Regions from separate parts of the Homo sapiens genome. Here region 1 is linked to region 2. Evidence: fine-mapped expression QTL. A gene starts in region 2. The other region holds a variant in brackets. All regions are shown on one strand. Distances are between the middles of the regions.

Region 1 (2,906 bases), 40 kb before region 2:
CTCTGCCCTTTCCCTTTGAGGGGCTGGTGGAGAAGGGAGCAGTCCCAGCCAAGAAGACACAAGTTGTCCTTCTAGGCTTGTGGGCCCCGAGGAATAGCTGCCCCTCCCGCACCTCCATTGGCCATTCTCCCTCTTCCCCTTCTCCCCTCAGGAGAGCAGACATGTCTCCCTTGTCACCTGCTAGCAAACTGGAAGTCTCTCTCCCTCCTTCAGCAAGCACCCCTGGGAGACTTTATCTTCAGCAGACAAGGTCTTTGCTCACCCTGCACGGGGAGAATTCAAGAGGCCTTGGACATCACGAGGAAACCTGGCCCACGTGGGAGCTGGGGGTCTAGGGCCACCACATAAGTGTGAGTCCCCAACGTGAGAAAGAAGCAGCCACCTGTTGAACCAGGTATAAAAGGAGTCGAGAAACCTTGAGAAGTCTAGGTCCATCGCTGTGGGTTCACATGTCGGGAGAGTCAGGCGCATTGGGTTTTTGTTTGTGGTTTTCAATATTTTGTTTGTTTGTTTGTTTGTTTTGTTTTCTTTTTGAGACGGAGTCTCGCTCCATCGCCCAGGCTGGAGTGCAGTGGCACAATCTCGGCTCACTGTAACCTCTGTCTCCTGGGCTCAAGCAATTCTCCTGCTTCAGCCTCCCAAGTAGCTGGGATTACAGGTGCCCACCACCACACCCAACTAATCTTTTGTATTTTTTAGTAGAGACGGGATTTCACCATGTTGGCCAGGCTGATCTCGAACTCCTGACCTCGTGATTCACCTGCCTCAGTCTCCCAAAGTGCTGGGATTACAGGTATGAGCCACCGTGCCTGGCCTAATTTTTTTATTTTTAATTTTTGTGGGTACATAGTAGGTGTGTATATTTATGGGGTACATGAGATGTTTTGATACAGGCATGCAATGCATAATAATCACATAATGAAGAATCGGAGTATTCATCCCCTCAAGCATTTATCTTTTGTGTTACAAACAATGCAATTATAGTTATTTTTAAATGTACAATTAAATGATTATTGACAGTAGTCACACTGTTGTGCTATCAAATATTAGGTCTTATTTATTCTTTGTATTTTTTTGTACCTATTAACCATTCCCACCTTCCTCCCAACCCCACTTTCCTTTCCAGCTTCTGGTAACCAACCTTCTACTCTCTATGTCCAAGAGTTCAATTGTTTTGATCATTAGATCCCACAAATAAGTGAGAACATGTGATGTTTGTCTTTCTGTGCCTGGCTTATTTCACTTCACATAAGGGCCTCCTTTTCCATCTATATTATTGCAAATGACAGAATCTCATTTTTTTAATGGCTGAAGAGTACTCCATTGTGTATATGTACCACGTTTTCTTTATCCATTCATCTGTTGATGGACACTTAGGTTGCTTCCAAATCTTGGCTGTTGTGAACAGTGCTGCAATAAACATGGGGGTGCAGATACCTCTTCAATATACTGGCTTCCTTTTCCTTTCTTTCGGGTATATACCCAGCAGCAGGATTGCTGAGTCACATGGTCACAGCACATTGTTAATGAGCACAGACTCGCAGAATGCAGGACACGGATGGTGC[G/A]GGGGGAGAACAGCTGCACTCTCGGAGTGTCCAACTCCTCTTCAATATCTTTCCCTCACGTAATTCACAGCAATGGCTTCAAAGGAATAAGAAGGGGAGGGTGAGCTTAGTGCCAGATCTTTTAATGACCTCCTCTTAAGCTTAAAAATGCAGTTGCAAAATCAAAGAGTCCTACAAAAAGAAATTATTTAAAGTAAGTTATGCAACGTGTGCCCTTTGGAAAAACAGCAATGTCCTTAGAGTTATGCCCCCAGGATGGTGGGGACAGGCCCTACATCTGCAAACACATGTGCTCAGACCACCTGGCCCCTGCCAGGATCCCCCGCCCCTGGCCGTCTGCAAGTTTCCAGTCTTCGCAAAAATCCATTCGAGTCTGGAAAACATTCCTCTCCCCAACAAGCTGGCTCCTTCCCTCTATTCAGATCAGCTAAAAATCCTCTTCCTAAGGATCCAGCCCCAAATATGCTGTATAAGGAAGTCCCCACCTCAAAATCTCCACTGCCCTATTTCTTACTGAAATTCCTGTGGACAAAGGACAGACAGAGCTCAACATCATCTCTCTGCACACTGACATAAATGCATATCTAATTGCTTCCTTTGGAACAACTAATCAGAAACTCAAAAGAATGCAATCATTTGTCTCTTATCTACCTATGACTTGGAAGCCCCCTCCTTGCTTCGAGTTGTCCCTCCTTTCTGGACCAAACCAATGTACATCTTACATATATTGATTGATGTCTCATGTCTCCCTAAAATGTATAAAACTAAGCTGTGCCCTGACCACCTTGGGCATATGTCATCGGGACCTCCTGAGGCTGTGTCACAGGCATGTCCTTAACCTTGGCAAAATAAACTTCCTAAATTGATCAAGACTTGTATCGGATACTCTTTGGTTTACAGTATGGTACCACATTTGTGTATCCATTCATCAATTGACAGACATATGGGTTGCTTCCAGTGTTTGACAATGGTGAATAATACTGCTATGAACATTTGTGTATATGCCTTTCTGGGGCATATGTTTTCAGTTCTCTTGGGTGTATATATATATGAGTGGAATTGCTAGACCATATGAAAACATTTAACTTTTTAAAGAAACCACTAAACTGTTTTACAAAGAGGCTGCACCATGTTACAATCCCAGCAGGAATACAGATGTTCCAGAGGCTCCACATCCTCACCAATACTTGTTATTAACAGTCTTTCTCATTCTATCCATGCTAGTGGCAGGGAGGTGGTATCTCACGGTGCCTTTGATTTGCATTCATTTGATAACTACTAACGTTTAGCACTTCTTCACATACTTTTTGACCACTTGTGTATTTTCTTTGGAGAACTGTC
Region 2 (2,906 bases):
TGCCCTGCCTGGGCCTCCTCTTTCACTGGGAATCACCAAAAATCATGTTTGGGGGAATAATTAGATTTCTTCCCATTAATTACTCATCTACAAAACTTTCCAAAGTTAGCTTCCAGTTTTCATTTTCCAGAAGGAATGTCATCTCATGATAATCAGTTTAGGGGGTAATGCCACAACTTAATGATAATCTCCAGAAATGTGAGGCTGTAAAGCAAAACCCAGAAATTCACATTGGTACCTAGAAGGGGGTGGCCAGGACAACATACTTGACGAGGCCTGCTTTAAACCTAAGTCTGGACTCTTACACCATAGGAGACCACAGGAGACCCACCCCAAAAGCAGAACAATCAATCCCTGTAATCCCCTCTCTGCCAATCCCTACCCCCTCCTTTGCAACAGTTAGAGTAATAAAGTTTATAGTAATGAGTTTTATGCTTCTCTAGTGATGAAATTCCATCAGTGTCGGTAAAAATGAAACCGCAAAGGTGGCCAGCACCTGGGTTCCTGCCAGCCTTGAAGCCCCCGTCCCTCCCTCCCAGCAAACCAACCACGGCCTGCACTGTGGGTGCCTGTCACAGAGCTGATGTCCTCGCGGGTCATCCCTCATCCCCGCATCCAGACACCGGGTCATGTCCCTGTGCTTCCTGCCCACTAACTGGGAGGATGACGCAGCGGCGCCGGGAGTCCAGGGCTGATTGGGCCGGCGGTTCCCGGAGCCGAGCCCGCGAACTCACAGCATCACCACCACTGGGAGCTCCTTCGCAATGCAGATTCCCGGAGCTCCAGACCCCAGGCAGAAACGCGCCCGCGTCCATGCTCCACGAGCCCCCTTGGGGTGCCGATGCCCTGGGTTTTCGAATCTGGTCTGCACCCTCCCTGGTCTCCAAGAGAGGTTGAAACTGAGACTGAGTGTGATTTACCGGAGTCCGGACGTGAACCGAGAGACGGGGAGGTGTTGGGGGGGGGCGTCATAAAGAGCTCCCCAGTGCAGAGGGGGAGGCCTGGGGGAACATGGGGGAGACGTGCCGGGCGGCCCCCGCCCCCCCAGGACCCCCACTCACTGCCGGTAGGGGTCGTGGAAGGGCAGCGCCAGCCAGGCGCCATGCAGCTCGCGCATGAAGTCCAGCATCTCCTGGGAGCTGCCGTCGGCTGACACGAAGACCACTTCGAAGGGCGCGGGCCGCCGCGCCTCGGCCACCAGCGCCGTATAGAAGTCGCAGAGCAGCGGCGTGAAGTCGCGGCTCGGCGCGCACCGGGCCGCCGCGAAGTACAGTGCCACCACCTTGTTCTGCAGCGCCGCCTCGGCCTCCACCGTCGCGCCCTTACAGGTCACCAGGTGCCGCTCGCCCAGAATGTCAACCATGGCGCAGACACGCAGCCACCTGAGACCCGAGGACACCTGCAGGAGGATGATCACCTGCGGGGAGGCGGCGGCGAGCGCCGCGGTGCCCCGCCTCTGTCCGCACCACCGGGCGCTGGACCTCTCAAGACCTGCCCCAGATGCGCCCACACCTTGGCCAGGCCTCGCCTGTGGCTGGAGCAATTGTGTTCGCGCCGACAATGAGACACTCAGACACCAGAGACCCCAGATACCTGGGCGACAGCGCGGCACCCGCCTCTGGGAGCGGGGCCAGCCAGGCAACCTCAAGCCCTCAGGTCTCTGCACCCTCCCCCAACTGCGCCCCGCCCACACTCCTGCGCCCTCCCACCACTGCGCCCCGCCCACATTCCCCGCAAGCTCCCCAACTGCGCCCCGCCCACATTCCGCACTCTCCACCCACTGCGCCCCGCCCACATCCCGCACTCTCCACCCACTGCGCCCCGCCCACATCCCCGCCCCCGCCCCCACTGCGCCTCGCCCGCATCCCCACACTGTCCCCCACTGCGCTGGGCCCACATCCCTACACTCTCCACCCACTGCGCCCCGCCCACATCTCCGCACCCTCCCCCACCGCACCCCGCCCACATCCCCGCACTCTCCTCCAACTGCGCCTCGCCCACATTCCACAGTTTCCCCTCACTGCGCCCCGCCCACATCCCCGCACTCTTCTCCAACTGCGCCTCGCCCACATTCCACAGTTTCCCCTCACTGCGCCCCGCGCACACTCCCGCTCCCTCCCCCACTGCGCCCCGCCCACACTCCCGCGCCCTCCCCCTCACTGCGGCCCGCCGACATCCCGCGCCCCCGCCCCCATCCCGACTGCGCCCCGCCCACCTCCCGCGCCCTCTCCCACTGGTTGTCCAGCCCACATCCTGCACTCCCTCCACTGCGCCCCGCTCACACTCCCGCACCCTCCCCACACTGCGCCCTGCCCACACTCCTGCACTCTCTCCCCACTACGCCCCCTACCACATCCCGCGCCCCCGCCCCCATCCCCACTGCGCCCCGCCCACACTCCCGCGCCCTCGCGCCCCTGGGCTCTCCCGTCGTGGGCACTCTCCCCAGCGCTTCTACACTTTCTCCCGACGCAGCGCCCTGCCCTCCGTCCCGCCCCACCTATTGCCTCCTGCGCTTCCCCCACACCGTGCTCTTCCTCCTCCTTCACTTCCTCCCACTCCTCGCGCTCCCCTTCAGCGCCCCACGCAGCCCCTCCCCCAAAACCCCGCGTCGCTCTCCTTCCCTCCTGGCCTCTCTTCCAGTCTCGCGCTCCCTGCCGGGCCCCGCCGCAGGTGTCCCGCAGCCGTCTCCCCAGGGCATTTGAATCTTGCCTTGGAGCTCTTGCCGCGCGGCCCAGCACCCTGGAAGAGGCATCAGGGAGGATGGGACGACGAGGAAGGGGAAGGGTAATTGGGCTTGGAGCGGGCTTGGGCGGGGTGGTAGGGAACCTGAGCTCCGTTGGTTCAGGGTGTTTGCCCCTGACATCCTGTGGCCTGGCTGGGAGGGTTCGTGAAGTTCAGGAAGAAAT

Evidence for each region.
Region 1: its variant is fine-mapped to the expression of NXNL2 in prefrontal cortex (BrainSeq, PIP 0.92).

What each region holds. Positions count from the first base shown.
Region 1 is chr9:88,573,822-88,576,727 of GRCh38, reverse strand. It overlaps a transcript of NXNL2 not described here. Among named protein-coding and RNA genes, the nearest start is that of NXNL2, 40 kb to the right of the region's middle. The variant G/A (reference allele first, on the strand shown) is at 1,566.
Region 2 is chr9:88,533,892-88,536,797 of GRCh38, reverse strand. It overlaps NXNL2 (nucleoredoxin like 2), which reads right to left and starts at 1,620. Exons shown (of 2, transcript NM_001161625.2): 1 at 1,062-1,620. The coding sequence starts at 1,363. LOC105376134 (a long non-coding RNA gene) reads left to right here and starts at 2,258. Exons shown (of 2, transcript XR_007061653.1): 1 at 2,258-2,784. RefSeq lists enhancers at 166-999, 1,000-1,834.